Regions from separate parts of the Homo sapiens genome. Here all the other regions are linked to region 1. The links come from fine-mapping of genetic effects on gene expression. A gene starts in region 1. Each other region holds a variant in brackets. All regions are shown on one strand. Distances are between the middles of the regions.

Region 1 (4,129 bases):
GCCAAAGAGCGCGGCAGAGCAGACGCCAAGAGGACCCTTCTCTGGGTCCAGAAATGCCCCCCAACTGGGAAATCCAGGCATCTGGTCCCCCGAGTTACATACCTGTGGGCTGTCATCTTTCTCTTCCTCCATGGCCAGAAACAGAAAAAACAGTCAGGGGCGAAAAGCAGACAGCCTGAAGCAAACAAGGGCACACCTCTACCCGCTCATGCTCACACCTGGACACTTTTCCCTGGGTTCCTTTCAAGTCAAATTATGTTTCACTGAAAGGAAAATCCTGCTGAAAAAGTCTGTTCTCCAGGAAGAAAAGCTGTCTTTTGAGAAGTGTCTGTCATCTGCTAGGAGCCACCTCCTTCCCTCTGTAAACAGCCCTCACGTGGCTGTCCCGGAACCCAGAACAGCAGCCAGATGGGGCGTATCCAAGCAGGTCAAGAGGAGCCAGGCCCAGCGCGGCGGGGATGGGGGCAGCGCTGCCTTCTGGAGAAGCACGGCTGGAGGGGAGGTGACGCTGGCGGGGCGTGGATCCGGGGTGTGGGGATGCAGCTGGGGAGGAGGGTGCAGCTGGGGAGGGGGTGGATCCGGCGTGTAGGGGTACCGCTGGGGAGTGGGTGCAGCTGGGGAGGGGGTGGATCTGGGGTGTGGGGGTGCCGCTGGGGAGTGGGTGCAGCTGGGGAGGGGGTGGATCCGGCGTGTAGGGGTACCGCTGGGGAGTGGGTGCAGCTGGGGAGGGGGTGGATCTGGGGTGTGGGGGTACTGCTGGGGAGAGGGTGCAGCTGGGGAGCGCGTGGATCCGGCGAGTGGGGGTACCGCTAGGGAGGGGGTGCAGCTGGGGAGGGGGTGGATCTGGGGTGTGGGGGTGCCGCTGGGGAGGGGGTGCAGCTGGGGAGGGGGTGGATCTGGGGCGTGGGGGTGCCGCTGGGGAGGGGGTGCAGCTGGGGAGGGGGTGGATCTGGGGCGTGGGGGTGCCGCTGGGGAGGGGGTGCAGCTGGGGAGGGGATGGATCTGGGGTGTGGGGGTACCGCTGGGGAAGGGCGTGCAGCTGGAGAGGGGATGGATCTGGGCTGTGGGGGTGCCGCTGGGGACGGGGTGCAGCTGGGGAGGGGGTGGATCCGGATTGTGAGGGTGCGGCTGGGGGGCGACTTCCGCGTGGGGTGAGAGGTCGCCTGCGAGGGTGACCGGGCAGGAGGGCTCAGTGCGCAAGCCGGACGTGCTGGGTCCAAGATTATTGATTAATTTGGGCACCGCGAGGGCTCGAGTCCCCCCACACCACTGCCCGGCCTGCGGGGGAGCACAGACAGCCCGGGCCCTCCCGGCTGCAGGTCCCGGGCTTTCCCCGCGCGGTTGCCGGCTCCGCCCAGAGGAGCCGCGCCCGGCGGAGGGGTAAGAAAGGCAGGGTCGCGGCGTCAACGCGGCGGCCGTCTCGAGTCCAGGGCCCGCGTCCTCCCCGACCTCCCGACGCCACCTCACGGCCTCAGGGGGACTGGGCTCCCGGGAAACCGCCGGCCACCTGGCGGACGAACACAGGCAGTGGCGGGCAGTGGAGACGCCAGGGACCACCGCGCTGAGAGCGATCACTCATCCGCCAGCCCCGCCCCGCGAGCCCCGCCCCGCGAGCCCCGCCCCGCGAGCCCCGCCCCGCGAGCCCCGCCCCGCGAGCCCCGCCCCGCGAGCCCCGCACCGCCGGCCCCGCACCGCCAGCCCCGCGAGCCCCGCCCCGCCCCGCGCGCTCCTCGCATTGGCCGAGTCCCCGCGGCCACACCCCCTACCAGATTGGGGCCGCTATTGGACGCGGCGGCCGCGGCCAATCGGAGCCGCTCTTGCTGCGACGCAGCGGTCGGAAGCGGAGCAAGGTCGAGGCCGGGTTGGCGCCGGAGCCGGGGCCGCTTGGAGCTCGTGTGGGGTCTCCGGTCCAGGTGAGTCTGTCGGATTGGGGCGGGCGCCGCGCGCGGCCAGGGGCGGGGCTGGCCGGGTTCCCGGGGCCGCGACTACCCGCTCTCTCCTCCCGCAGGGCGCGGCATGGGCGTCCTGGCCGCAGCGGCGCGCTGCCTGGTCCGGGGTGCGGACCGAATGAGCAAGTGGACGAGCAAGCGGGGCCCGCGCAGCTTCAGGGGCCGCAAGGGCCGGGGCGCCAAGGGCATCGGCTTCCTCACCTCGGGCTGGAGGTTCGTGCAGATCAAGGAGATGGTCCCGGAGTTCGTCGTCCCGGATCTGACCGGCTTCAAGCTCAAGCCCTACGTGAGCTACCTCGCCCCTGAGAGCGAGGAGACGCCCCTGACGGCCGCGCAGCTCTTCAGCGAAGCCGTGGCGCCTGCCATCGAAAAGGACTTCAAGGACGGTACCTTCGACCCTGACAACCTGGAAAAGTACGGCTTCGAGCCCACACAGGAGGGAAAGCTCTTCCAGCTCTACCCCAGGAACTTCCTGCGCTAGCTGGGCGGGGGAGGGGCGGCCTGCCCTCATCTCATTTCTATTAAACGCCTTTGCCAGCTATACGGTGTTTGTTTTTTGGCCTCAGGTCATGGCAAAGTGTGCAGCATGACAGATTTCAGTGCAGGCACCTAAGCCGAGTTCTCATGCAGACTCGGCGCTGTGAACCTCTTTGGAGGTCATCTTCCGAGTCCGAAGGTTCTGGGAACCTGCCAAGGGCAAACATCACTCAGCTTGCAGGAGAAAGAATTTACAAGGCAGATTGTGCCGGATGACAGCACTGGTCAGTTCATCCCCCAAATTATTCACCCAGGGAACAAAGATACAGAGATGGGGGTCTCACTATGCTGCCCAGGCTGAGAACTCATGGGCTGAAATGATCCGCCCGCCTCAGCCTCCCAAAATGCTGGGATTACAGGTGTGAGCCACTGCGCCCAGCCTAGGAAAATTTCCTGTTGCAATCTGACATATAGTGACATGTTGTGTTGTATCATCAGAAAAGAAGAAAGGGATAAGGCCAGGTGCGGTGGCTCACGCCTGTAATCCCAGCACATTGGGAGGCTGAGGCGGGAGGATCACAAGATTAGGAGTTCAAGACCAGCCTGGCCAGCATGATGAAACCCCATCTCTACTAAAAATACAAAAATTAGCCAGGCGTGGTGGCGTGCGACTGTAGTCCCAGCTACTCCAAAGGCAAGAGAATCGCTTAAACCCAGGAGGCAGAGCTTGCAGTGAGTCGAGATCGCACCACTGCACTCCAGCCTGGGTAACAGAGTGAGACTCCGTCTCAAAAAAGGGATAAAACTGCATGTTTTTTTGCTTGTAGTCACCTATGTATCATTAGTAAATGCTGAGGATTTGACAAATAGTGGCCTGTACCTCAACCACAGTTCCTCCCAGAGAGACAAAAGCCCTCACAGCAGGAGTTGGATGTAACACACCCAGTTTGTTCACACACCTAAAGTCACCATCTGTCCAGTATTTGGGAGCTAACCCGTGTGGGTGCTGCAGTGATGAGTGTTCCCTACAGACTTCACATATTTCAAGCTGATGACCCCCAAGGCAACTTGGAACACACACTCCCTTTTACTTACCTGCATAGGGATCCAATACAGGTTGAGCGTCGTTATCCAAAATGCTTGGGGCTGGGCGCCCTGGCTCATGCCTGTAATCCCAGCACTTTGGGAAGCCGAGACAGGCGGGTCATCTGAGGTCAGGAGCCTGGCCAACATGGTGAAACCCCATTTGTACTAAAAATACAAAAATTAGCCAGGCATGGTGGCACACACCTGTAATCCCAGCTACTCCGGAGGCTGAGGCAGGAGAATCACTTGAACCTGGGAGGTGGAGGGCAGTGAGTCGAGATGGAGCCACCGAGATTGAGCCACTGCACTCCAGCCTGGGTGACGAGCATGACTCTGTCTCAAAAAAAAAAAAAGGCACAGCTCAACGCCTGTAATCCCGGCACTTTGGGCGGCCAAGGTGGACGGATCACCTGAGGTCCAGAGTTTGAGAGCAGCCTGACCAACATGGAGAAACCTTGTCTCTACTAAATATACAAAATTAGCCGGGCATGCTGGTGGATGCCAGCTATTGGGAGGGTGAGGCAGGAGAATCGCTTGAACTTGGGAGGCGGAGGTTGCAGTGAGTCAAGATTGTGCCATTGCACCCCAGCCTGGGCAGCAAGAGCAAAACTCCATCT
Region 2 (4,171 bases), 83 kb after region 1:
TGCGTGCCACCACACCTAGGTAATTTTTGTATTTTTGGTAGAGACAGGGTTTCACAATGTTACCCAGGCTGGTCTCGAGCTCTTGGACTCAAGCCATCTGCCTGCCTTGGCCTCCTACGGTGCTGGGATTACAGGCGTGAGCCACTGTGCCCAGCCTAGACCACTTTTTAGGGATTACAGGCGTGAGCCACTGTGCCCGGCCTAGACCACTTCTTCAAGCATTTAATGACTGTTCCTTTGATCATATTCCTGGGTATAGCATCACACGGGGCAGGTTGCTAACCTAGGTGGGCTGATGGAGCTGTGGAGACCATGCTAATGATTCTCGTCCTTGCAATAAGGGCAGTAGGAGGGTTTCAAGGCAGGGAGTGACCTCATCAGGTTTGCGTGTTAGGCTCTGGCTTCCTTCCTGGTCTTCCTGCTGCTGTGTGAAGAACGGATTGTAGACGGATGGCAGTGGAGGCAGCAAACGCAGTCCTCAGGGAGTGGGTGGTCACCGGTTATGTGGCAGATGAGGAGGGCACAAGGATGACTTGTGGGACTAGGCCGGAGCCAAATGCTGGGTTCTCTGCTTGAACGGAAGGGTGGGTGGCCGTGCCATTCACCCGGACAGGGAAGGCATGCTCAGGTCAGCTCTGGGGTGGTTTATTCCAGGGGTGGCAAACTCTTTCTGAGCAGGCTGGATAGTATTTCAGACTCATGCACCAAGAAGCAAAATCAAGGATAACTCCACAAATTTTTGTTGACAAAGATCAAAATATAATTGACTACTTTTTTTTTTTTTGTAATACAGATCTACTGATTAGAAGAACAGAATTTTTGGGGGGATAACATTTTGCTTAATTGGGGTTCAATGTTAATGTTCCCCATCATAAAAATTACTGGAGCTGTTCATCTGTTAAGTGCTTACTGTGACACAGTTTTCTGTTTCATCTTTGAAAATGTCTTCACACCGATAGCTGTTGCCATATTCCAGTATCAGTCCAGGAGCAGATGATTTATTTTTATTGAGATGTAATTCATTTACTATAAAATTCACATTTTAAAATGTGCACCTCAGTGGGGTTCTTTGGTATGTCTGGAGTGGTCCAACCATTACCACTACTTCCAGATCATTCCGTCATTACCACTACTTCCAGATCATTCCGTCACCCCAAAAAGAAACCTCATACCCATTAGCAGGACTTCCCTAATCCTCCCTCCCCGACCCCCGACACTGCTCTACTTTTTTGCAAATATTTTTTCTCATTCTGTGGGCTGTCTTTTCACTTTCTAATTTTTTTTTTTTTTTTTGAGACAGTCTCGCTCTTGTCGCCTAGGCTGGAGTGCAATCTAGTCTCACTGCAACCTCCGCCTCCCGGGTTCAAGCGATTCCCCTGCCTCAGCCTCCTGAGAAGCTGGGATTACAGGTGCGCACCAGCACGCCGGCTTATTTTTGTATTTTTAGTAGAGTCAGGGTTTCACCATGTTGTTCAGGCTGGTCTTGAACTCCTGACTTCAAGTGATCCACCTGCCTCGGCCTCTCAAAGTGCTGGGATTATAGGCATGAGCCACTGTGCCCGGCCTAATTTTTATTTTCTTGATGCCTTCCTTTGAAGCACAGATGTTTTTAATTTTTGATGAAATCCACCTTCTTGTTTTCCAGTTGGTTTCTTTGCTTTTGTTGTCGTGTCTGATTGCCCAATCCAAACCAGGGAGTTTATGTTTCCTTGGAAAATTTGCATAGTTTTAGCTCTTACATTTAAGTCTTTGATCCGTTTTGACTTAATTTTTGTATATGATGTTAGGTAGGATCCAGGCTTCATTCTTTTCATGTACAGTTGGCTCAGCAGCGTTTGTTGAAAAGACCATGCTTTCCCCATTGAATTGCCTGGCCATCGTTTTTGAAAATCAGTTGAACATAAATGTGATGGTTAATTTCTGGGTTCTCAGTTCTATTCCGTTGATGTATATGTCTGTCCTAATGCGAGCATTGTTGCAGCAGTGTAATAAGTTTTGTAATGAGGAAATGTGAGTCCTTCAACTTTGTCTTTTTCATGATTGGGTCCCTTGCATTTTCTTTCATTTCTTTTCTTTTCTTTTCTTTTCTTTTTTTTCAAGATTGGGTCCCTTGCTTGCTTGCTTGCTTGCTTTTTCTTTCTTTTCTTTCTTTCTTCTTTCTTTTTTTTTTTTTTTGACAGAGTCTCTCTCTATCGCCCAGGCTGGAGTGCCGTGGTGCGATCTCAGCTCACTGCAACCTCTGCCTTCCAGGTTCACGCCATTCTCCTGCCTCAGCTTCCCGAGTAGCTGGGACTACAGGCGCCCCCACCATGCCCAGCTAATTTTTTTTTTTTTTTTTTTTTTTTTGTATTTTTAGTAGAGATGGGGTTTCACCATATTAGCCAGGATGGTCTCGATCTCCTGACCTCGTGATCCGCCGGCCTCGGCCTCCCAAAGTGCTGGGATTACAGGTGTGAGCCACTGCGCCCGGCTGTCACTTGGATTTTCGTATGAGT[T/G]TTAGGATCTTGTTGTCAATATCTGCAAAAAAGCCTTTCAGGATCTTGAAAGGGATTGTGTTGAATATGTAGATCAGTTTAGGATATCGCCATCTTAATAGCAAGTCTTCCAATTGGGGAACACCGGATGCTTGTCCATTTATTTAGGTCTTCTATTTTATTTTATTTTATTTATTTATTTTGAGACAGAGTCTTGCACTGTCACCTGGGCTGGAGTGCAGTGGCGTGATCTCGGGTCACTGCAACCTCCGCCTCCTGAATTCAAGCCATTCTCCTGCCTAAGCCTCTCGACTAGCTAGGATTACAGGCACCCATCGCCACGCCCAGCTAATTTTTTTTTTTTAATGTATTTTTGGTAGAGACGGAGTTTCACCATGTTGGACAGGCTGGTCTTGAACTTCTGACCTCGTGATTCGCCCTCCTTGGCCTCCCAAAGTGTTGGGATTACAGGCATGAACCACTGCGCTCGGCCTTCAGTTTTCTTTAACATTTTCAGAGCTGGGCGCGGTGGCTCACGCCTGTAATCCCAGCACTTTGGGAGGCCGAGGTGGGTGGATCACGAGGTCAGGAGATCGAGACCATCCTGGCTAACATGGTGAAACCCCGTCTCTACTAAAAATACAAAAAATTAGTGGGACGTGGTGGCGGGCGCCTGTAGTTCCAGCTACTCGGGAGGCTGAGGCAGGAGAATGGCATGAACCTGGGAGGCGGAGCTTGCAGTGAGCTGAGATGGTGCCACTGCTCTCCAGCCTGGGCGACAGAGCGAGACTGTCTCAAAAAACAAAACAAAACAAAAAACAATATTTTAATGTATAAGTTTTGTAGTTATTTCTTACAAGTATTTTATTCTTTTTGATGCTTTTATAAATAGAATTAAAAAAAATTTTTTTTTTTTGAGATGGGGAGTCTTGCTCTGTCGCCCAGGCTAGAGTGCAGTGGTACGATCTCGGTTCACTGCAACCTCCGCCTCCTGGGTTCAAGCAGTTCTCCTGCCTCAGCCTCCTGAGTAGTTGGGATTACAGGTGCATGCCACCACGCCTTGCTAATTTTTGTATTTTTAGTAGAGATGGGGTTTCACCATTTTGGCCAGGCTGATCTTGAACTCCTGACCTCAGGATCCACCCACCTCCAGCTCCCAGAGTGCTGGGATTATAGGCGTGAGCCACCATGCCCAGCCACATTTCATTTTTAGATTGCAATTGTATAGACATAAAATTGATTTTTATATATTGGATCTTGTATCCTGCAACTTTGCTGAATTTTTTTTGGTGTGGATTCCTTGGGATTTTCTATATATAGGATTATGTCATTTGGGAATAGAGTTGTAGTTCTTCCTTTTAAATCTGGACACTTTTTTGTCCTTCCCTAATTGCCCTGGCTAGTAAAATGTTGAATAGAAGTGGTGAAAGCTGACATTCCCATCTTCATTCCTGTTTTTAGAGGAAAGCTTTTAGTTTTTCACCATTAGGTATGATATTAGCTATGAGTTTTTCCATAGATGCCCTTTACTAGATTGAGGAATTCCCTTTTATTTCTAGCTTGTTGAGTGTTTTCATTATAAAGGGGTTTTGGATTTTGTCAAATGTTTGTCTCTATCTGTTGACATGATTATGTAGTTTTTTTCCTTTATTGATATGGTGTCTTACATAGATTTTCATATGCTCAACCAGCCCTGC
Region 3 (4,171 bases), 150 kb after region 1:
TAACTGGGTGTCTCATGTCATGACAGCCTGTAGTGCCCACCTCCCCGGGAGCTGCTTGTGTACTTGGCCTCCACGTGCAGCATGGGGTCTGAGTTCTACTTCACTATCTGGGGAACTTTTTTCCCCTTAAGTTTTTGTGTCTATCTGAACCCACCAATTAACATTTAAGGAAAAAACTTCACGAAGTGGGAAATAATCCTTTTTTCTCCAGCCACATCAGTGCCTTAGACAATATATTAAAGTGGGCATTCGGAAGAAGACAATGTTGTTTTCTAGAAGGATGGTGGAGTCCAGCTCAAGCACGTCAAATGTGTGCTGAGGTGGGCCTCATTAGTCCGCTGTTCTCCTTTCTCAAAAGGTTTGATTTGTTGCTGTTGTGACCCATTTTGATCATGGATTGGGTAGATTTTGCACCCCTGCCATGCCACCCCACCCTCCCTACCATAGCATTCAGCCCTTGATGCTTAGGTACTGTTCTAATTGAGGTTTTATTATAGGCTGTGACATTGATGAGAATCTGGATAGGTCAGTGAAGGAACTGTTCCTGTGATCAATTCTGGCTTTACAAATTGTAGCTCTTGTTTTACTATAAAAAATGCCAGGTTTCTGGGTGTATTGGCTCGTTCTCACACTGCTATAAAGACATACCTGAGGCTGGGTAATTTATAAGGAAAAGAGGTTTAATCGGTTCATGGTTCTGTGGGCAGGCTGTATAGGTTTCTGCTTCTGGGGAAGCCTCAAGCAACTTAAAATCATGGCGGAAGGCCTAGGAGAAGCAGGCATATTTTCACATGGCTGGCAGGAGAGAGAAAGCATGAAGGGGAAAGTGCTGCACACTTTCCAACAACCAGGTCTCATGAGAACTCACTCATTATCATGAGAACAGCAAGGGGAACGTCCGCCCCCATGATCCAGTCAGCTCCTACCAGGTCCCTCCCCCAACATTGAGGATTACAGTTAAACATGAGATTTGGGTGGGGACACAGAGCAAACCATATCATTTTGCCCCTGATCCCTCCTAAATCTCATGTCCTTTTCACATTTCTTTTTTTTTTTTCTCTTGTTTTTTTTTGAGACAGAGTCTCACTCTGTCACCTAGGCTGGAGTGCAATGATGCGATCTCAGCTCACTGCAACCTCTGTCCCCCAGGCTCTAGTGATTCTCCTGCCTCAGCTTCCTGAGTAGCTGGGATTGCAGGCATGTGCCACCACACCTGGCTAATTTTTATTTTATTTTATTTTATTTTGACGTGCAGTTTTGCTCTTGTCGCCCAGGCTGGAGTGCAATGGTGTGATCTTGGCTCACTGCAACCTCTGCCTCCCGGGTTTGAGCAATTCTCCTGCCTCAGCCTCTTGAGTAGCTGGGATTACAGGTGGGCGCCACCATGCCTGGCTAATTTTTTTTTTTTTTTTTTTGAGATGGAGTTTTGCTCTTGTTGCCCAGGCTGGAGTGCAATGGTGTGATCTCAGCTCACTGCAACCTCCACCTCCCAGGTTCAAGGAATTCTCCTGCCTCAGCCTCCTGAATAGCTGGGATTACAGGCACGCGCCACCATGCCTGGTTAAATTTTTTTTTTTTTTTGAGACGGAGTTTTGCTTTTGTCGCCCAGGCTGGAGTGCAATGGTGCGATCTCAGCTCACTGCAACCTCTGCCTCCTGGGTTCAAGTGATTCTCCTGCCTGAGCCTCTCAAGTAGCTGGGATTACAGGTGCCCGCCACCATGTCCATTTAATTTTTGTATTTTTAGTAGAAACGGGGTTTCACCATGTTGGCCAGGCTCGTCTCGAACTTCTGACCTCAGGTGATCTACTCGCCTCAGCCTCCCAAAGTGCTGAGATTACAGATGTGAGCCACTGCGCCCAGCCTAATTTTTGTATTTTTAATAGAGACAGGGTTTCACCATGTTGGTCAGGCTGGTCTCAAACTCCTGACCTCATGATCCACCCACCTCGGCCTCCCAAAGTGCTGGGTCCTTCTCACATTTCAAAACACAAATATGCCTTCCAGCAATTTCCCAAAGTCTTAACTCATTCCAGCATTAACTCAAAAGTCCAAAGTCTTATCTGAGACAAGGTAAGTCCCTTCTGCCTATCAGCCTGTAAAATAAAAAGCTTACTTCCAAGAAACAATAGTAATACAGGCATTGGGTAAATGCTTCTGTTCCAAAAGGGAAAAATTGACCAAAACAAAGGGGCTACAGGCTCCATGTAAGTCTGAAACCCAGCAGGGCAGTCTGAGTTCCACAATAATCTTCTTTGACTCCATGTCTCACTTCCAGGCCACACTGGTGGAAGGGGTGGGCTCCCAAGGCCTTGGGCAGCTCTGCCTCTGTGGCTCTTCAGGGTACAGCTCCTGCAGCTGCTTTCATGGGCTGGCGTTGAGTGCCTGCTGCTTTTCTAGGCGTGTGGTACAAGCCGTAGATGGATCTACCATTCTGGGGTCTGGAGGGTAGTGGTCCTCTTCTCACAGCTCCACTAGGCAGTGCCCCAGTGGAGACT[C/T]TATGTGGGGCTCCAGTCCCACATTTCCCATCCACACTGCCCTAGTAGAGGCTCTCCGTGGGGGCTTCGCCCCTGCAGGAAGCTTCTGTCTGGACATCTGGACATTTCCATATACTTGGCCTCCACATCCAGCATCCTCTGAATTCAAGCAATTCTCCTGCCTCAGCTTCCTGAGTAGCTGGGATTACAGGCATGCGCCACCACAGATGTATGGATGATATCCATACATCCTGTGAAATCTAGGTGGAGGCTCCCAAGCCTTAACTCTTGCCCTGTGTGCACCTGCTGGGTTAACACCATGTAGAAGCCTTGGTAGCTGCCAGCTTGCACCCTTTGGGTCAGTGTCCTGAGATGTATCTGGGGCCGTTTCAGCCACCACTGGAGCTGGAGTGGCTGTGATGCCGGACACCATGTACTGAGGTTGCACAGAGCAGCAAGGCCCTGGGTCTGGCCCACAAAACCATTCTTCCTTCCTAGGCCTCCAGGCCTGTGATGGGAGGGGCTGCTGCAAAGGTCTCTGAGGCATTTTCCCCATTGTCTTGGCTATTAACATTCAGCTCCTCATGCAAATTTCTGTAGCTGGCTTGAACCCCTTCCCTGAAAAATGTGCTTTTTTTCCTACCACATGGTCAGGCTGCAAAATTTCCAAACTTTTATGCTCTGCTTCCCTTTTAAATATAAGTTCCAGTTTCAGATACTCTCTTCGTGCACGCATGTGAGTGTATGCTGTTAGAAGCAGCCAGGCCACATCTTGACTGCTTTGCTACTTAGGAATTTCTTCCACCACATACCCTAAATCATCTCTCTCAAGTTCAAAGTTCCACAGATCCTTAGAGCAGGGACACAGTGCCGCCTGTCTCTTTGCTAAAGCATAGCAAGAGTGACTTTTACTCCAATTCCCAATAGGTTCCTCATCTCCATCTGAGACCTCCTCAGCTTGGACTTCATTGTCCATATCACTGTCAGCATTTTGGTCAAAACCATTCAAAAAGCCTCTAGGAAGTTCATCTTCCTTTCTTCTTCCTAGCCCTTTAACCTGTTCAAACTTCGGCCCATTACCCATTTCCAAAGCTGCTTCCACATTTTCAGGTATCTTTATAGCAATGCCCTACTTCTCCAGTACCAATTTTCTGTATTAGTCTGTTCTCACACTGCTATAAAGATATACCTAATTCTGGGTAATTTATAAAGAAAAGAGGTTTGATCAGCTCATGGTTCTGTGGGCTGTAGAGGCTTCTGCTTCTAGGGAGGCCTCAGGAAACTTAGCAATCATGGCGGGAGGGCAAAGGGGAAGCGAGCACATCTTACCTGGCCATAAGGATGAAGAGAGAGCAAAGGGGGAAGTGCCACACACTTTCCAACAACCAGATCTTGTGAGATATATCACGAAAACAGCAAGGGGGACATCTGCCCCCATGATCCAGTTACCTCCCATCAGGCCCCTCCCCCAATATTCGGGATTACAGTTCAACATGAGATTTTGGTGGGGACACAGAGCCAAACCATATCACTATGTGTCTGTAAACAGTGAGGTTATGATGTGACCTCAGCTCTGCAGCCTGTAGGGGAATGTGTGGGAGGAAGGAGCTCACTGAGCTCGGGACTTGGAGGGAAGGACTGGGCCACTTTGTTCTCATAAACAAGCAGGACCAAGACCGGAGGCTTGTGGCCTTG
Region 4 (4,171 bases), 21 kb before region 1:
TTTCCGGAGAATGTTGCCTTCTTTGTTTTAGCAGGCGATTAAGCTGGTTGGGTTCAGACCACAAGTCTGTATCTGTGGATGGTGGATTCCAGTTTCTCTGTTTTCAAAGCCTTGGTTCTGATGCTTTGCTCTGCCCTGAACATGCACCACTCAGGAGTCAATCTGAGATTCGAGGTGAAGTTTGAATCTTTGTTTTTTTTTTTTTTTTTTTGAGACGGAGTTTCACTCTACCACCCAGGCTGGAGTGTAGTGGCACGATCTCGGCTCACTGCAACCTCCGCCTCCTGGGTTGAAGCAACTCTCCTGCCTCAGCCCCCTGAGTAGCTGGGATTACAGGCACACACCACCACACTTGGCTAAATTTTTGTATTTTTAGTAGAGACGGGGTTTCACCATGTTGACCAGGCTGGTGTGGAACTCCTGACCTCATGTGATCCGCCCGCCTCAGCCTCCCAAAGTGCTGGGATTACAGGTGTGAGCCACCGCGCCCAGCCTGAAGTTTGAATTTTTTTTTTCCTGAGATACAGTCTTGCTCTGTTTCCCAGGCTGTGGTGCAGTGGCATGATCTCGGCTCACTGCAACTTCTGCCTCCCGGGTTCAAGCGATTCTCCGGCCTCAGCCTCCCGAGTAGATGAGACTAGAGGTGCGCGCCACCACACCCAGCTAATTTTTTTGTATTTTTAGTGGAGACAGGGTTTAACCATGTTGGCCAGGACAGTCTTGATCTCTTGACCTTGTGATCTGCCCGCCTCGGCCTCCCAAAGTGTTGGGATTACAGGCGTGAGCCACCGCACCTGGCCTTGAAGTATGAATCTTAATACAGTTTCAAAGTCTTTGTTATGCTGCTCTGGGTCTGTCCTGAGCCTTGTACAGGTTCACAGACAAAATCTGTGCATCTACTTCCCTGGCTCTCTCCTCCCTGAGATCCACACACTCTCTCTGGCCCTTGGGGGCCCTTCTTCTGGTGCTTTTGGAGGATTCCCATCAGGGCTTTTGCTCCATAACTGGGCTACCATCAAGGCAAGGCCATGAGTAACAGAAGAAAACGAAAAAGCAGGAAGCAGAACCCTCGTGGGTGGCGGCTCCACGATGACTATCCACAGTCTACTGGCTTTATTTTCGGAGTTCTCCAAGAATTGTTTTCTGCATTCTGTCCAGAGTTTTTCACTGTAATCAGCAGGACAGGCTGTTGTGGCACTACCTTGCCACAGCAGAACTGTAACTCTCCCATTTATTTTAGTTAAAAATAAAATCTTAATTTCCTTCTTCTTTGAGAGCCTGAATGAAGATGCCTAACACATCACCACAGATACTAAATCAAACAGCAGCTGCTCACCTGTGTAGACCAGGCTCACGGCTGCTGCTGTTCAGGAGAATTCCAATGTACCTTCCTGCACGAGGCCACATAAACGAGAACCCAAACAAGGAACTTAGAGGGTGCCCAATCTCCTGGTGCTGGGCTCCAAAGCACAACTGGCCGACACTCAGGCCTGCTGCGGGCCCCGCACATCGAGCACACCAGATACTCAGCTCTTGGCACATGCTAATCGATCTCTGAGACTCAGCAATTTTTCTTCCACTTGGAATTTTGTTCCGTTCCTTTCAAAACCTTTATGTAGAGCAAGTTCCTCCCTAAGAGAGCTACACCACACCACAAGAAACACAAGCACAGAACGGTTGAGAGGAGTCATCTGCCAGCCCCAACAGCCGGGGTCCAGCGACTGAAATCACGGCCTGCTCCAGACTCAAGGGAGAGACACCCCCACCAACCGCATCAGCTGGGCAAGTCTCATCTCCACTCTGGAATCAGGGAGAAAAGCACGTGCGTGTGTTTGGGGGCGGGTGGGGAAAA[A/G]GAATAACAACTTAGCAGCTGTTGCTAAAAATGGCTTTTGTGTGTTTTATTTCAAATCCACTTGTTTACTTCAAAAAACCATGCCTTCATAACCTCACCCCAGATCAGGAAGCTGTGAAAACCACAGGGAGAGGCTGGATGCTGGGAAGCCCAGGTGGACACGCAGCTCCTCTGGCAGGCAGGGGTCCCCGAGGGCTCCCCACACTTGCACATCTTCAGATCTCGGCAGTGCTGTATGTAGCAGCCAGCAATCACACCCAACCCAGCTGTCACTCAGCCACGGAGAAATCAACGGTGGTGTCAACGACTGAACTAGAACGACACCCACTCACGCCAATGAATCTCACGTTCATAATGTTGCTCAAATTAGGAAAGGTGAGGAATCCTGGTGTGATGCCATTTATGAGATTTAGAGTCAAGCAAAATTATACTACATATTGTATAAGTACCAAAGAAAATTCAGAAAAGTAGCTATCTCTGAAGAAAAGAGAAGGTGAAATGAGAGCACACGTGGGTAATGTGAACAGAGCCGGCAGTGTGCATCTAACCTGTGTTCTAGCTAACCAGGGTTAAAACTATATAACCTGGGTTCGAGTTAAGATGCCTGTTTGCTGTGTCATGCCTACTTGTTTTAGAGACAGGGTCCTGCTATGTTGTCTGGGCTGGCCTAGAACTACGAGGCTCAGCAATCTCCTTTCCTCTCCCGAACAGCCAGGACTATAGGTGCCAACCGCCATTCCCAGCAACATCACGCTTTTTTGCGTATCTGCGGTATTTTGTAACAACTTTATAAAAATTAAAATAATAAAGACTATCTCCCATTAAAAATGGTGGGTTGGGCCAGGCACGGTGGTTCACACCTATAATCCCAGCACTTTGGGAGGCCCAGGAGGGCAGATCGCTTGAGGTCAGGAGTTGAAGACCAGCCTGGCCAACATGGTGAAACCTTGTTTCTACTAAAAATACAAATATTACACGGGCATGCTGGTGTATACCTGTAGTCCCAGCTACTCGGGAGGCTGAAGCACAAGACTCACTTGAACCCAGGAAATGGAGGTTGCAGTGAGCCAAGATCACGCCACTGCACTCCAGCCTGGGTGACAGAGTGAGACTGTCTCCAAAAAAGAAAGGTAAGTTGAAGGTAAATGCTTATCTTTGTCCCCTTGTGGAATATACATGCTTATCTCTGCTCTCTTAAAAAGATACAAACCTCCAAGGATAAAGACAAAAGCTAAGAGTAGATAAAAAATGTCACTGAAATTTTAGCGGCTGATGAAAGCAAGTGACAGGGTCATGGCTGGTGGAGCCCTCTAAGGAAAGCTGACACTTGGTTTTAGAGGTGCAGAACCTGGACAGAGAGGACTGGTCCTCACTGCAGAGCCAGAACGAGGCTAACATGCAGGTGAGACGGGAAGAGGGGCAGGCTAACCCCAAGTCACTTTCCTGACCCCAACAGGCTGGAAATGGCTTTTCCCCGTGGCCAGAGGACTACCAGGAACTCTCTGGAGAAGGTGAAGCAAGCAGGTAAGAGCCCAAGGACATCAGGTGTGGCTACGAATCCAAGAACAGTGTCCACTCCAGACGGGAGCACTCCCAGACTCCTCAGTGAGTGTCCACTCCAGACGGGAACACTCCCAGAATCCTCAACAACAGTGTCCACTCCAGACGGGAGCACCCCCAGACTCCTCCCCAAGTGTCCACTCCAGATGGGAGCACTCTCAGACTCCTCAGTGAGTGTCCACTCCAGATGGGAGCACTCTCAGACTCCTCAGTGAGTGTCCACTCCAGACGGGAGCACCCCTAGACTCCTCCCCAACAGTGTCCACTCCAGGCGGGAGGACTCCCAGAATTCTCCACAACAGTGTACACTCTAGACGGGGGCACTCCCAGAGTCCTCCCCAACAGTGTCCACTCCAGGCGGGAGGACTCCCAGACTCCTCCCCAACAGTGTCCACTCCAGGCGGGAGGACTCCCAGAATCCTCAACAACAGTGTCCACTCCAGACAGGAGCACCCCCAGACTCCTCCCCAAGTGTCCACTCCAGATGGGAGCACTCCCAGACTCCTCAGTGAATGTCCACTCCAGACGGGAGCACCCCCAGACTCCTCCCCAACAGTGTCCACTCCAGGCGGGAGGACTCCCAGAATTCTCCACAACAGTGTACACTCCAGGCGGGAGGACTCCCAGAATCCTCCACAAGTGTCCACTCCAGACGGGAGCACCCCCAGAATCCTCCCCAACAATGTCCACTCCAGGCGGGAGGACTCCCAGAATCCTCCACAACAGTGTCCACTCCAGACAGGAGCATCCCCAGACTCC

Direction of the effects. Positions count from the first base shown, and alleles are read on the strand shown. Sizes are in standard deviations (SD) of each study's normalised expression. Not every link is listed here.
With allele T in place of C in region 3, the expression in subcutaneous fat of the gene that starts at base 1,814 in region 1 is higher (moderate effect, 0.56 SD a copy in FUSION).

Evidence for each region. PIP is the estimated chance that this variant, and not a neighbour inherited with it, causes the effect.
Region 2: its variant is fine-mapped to the expression of MRPL41 in tibial nerve (GTEx, PIP 0.95).
Region 3: its variant is fine-mapped to the expression of MRPL41 in subcutaneous fat (FUSION, PIP 0.95).
Region 4: its variant is fine-mapped to the expression of MRPL41 in whole blood (TOPMed, PIP 0.97).

The regions. Positions count from the first base shown.
Region 1 is chr9:137,550,066-137,554,194 of GRCh38, forward strand. MRPL41 (mitochondrial ribosomal protein L41) reads left to right here and starts at 1,814. Exons shown (of 2, transcript NM_032477.3): 1 at 1,814-1,913; 2 at 2,009-2,490. The coding sequence starts at 2,017. The coding sequence ends at 2,430. PNPLA7 (patatin like domain 7, lysophospholipase) reads right to left here and starts at 337. Exons shown (of 35, transcript NM_001098537.3): 1 at 103-337. The coding sequence starts at 132. LOC124902317 (a long non-coding RNA gene) reads right to left here and starts at 3,615. Exons shown (of 2, transcript XR_007061883.1): 1 at 3,522-3,615; 2 at 2,462-2,636. RefSeq lists a silencer at 1,136-2,085.
Region 2 is chr9:137,632,548-137,636,718 of GRCh38, forward strand. The region is part of intron 1 of EHMT1 (euchromatic histone lysine methyltransferase 1); the gene reads left to right. Among named protein-coding and RNA genes, the nearest start is that of EHMT1, 16 kb to the left of the region's middle. RefSeq lists an enhancer at 270-564. The variant T/G (reference allele first, on the strand shown) is at 2,496.
Region 3 is chr9:137,700,230-137,704,400 of GRCh38, forward strand. All of the region lies in intron 1 of EHMT1 (euchromatic histone lysine methyltransferase 1), which reads left to right. Among named protein-coding and RNA genes, the nearest start is that of EHMT1, 83 kb to the left of the region's middle. The variant C/T (reference allele first, on the strand shown) is at 2,498.
Region 4 is chr9:137,529,465-137,533,635 of GRCh38, forward strand. The region is part of intron 8 of PNPLA7 (patatin like domain 7, lysophospholipase); the gene reads right to left. Among named protein-coding and RNA genes, the nearest start is that of PNPLA7, 19 kb to the right of the region's middle. The variant A/G (reference allele first, on the strand shown) is at 1,853.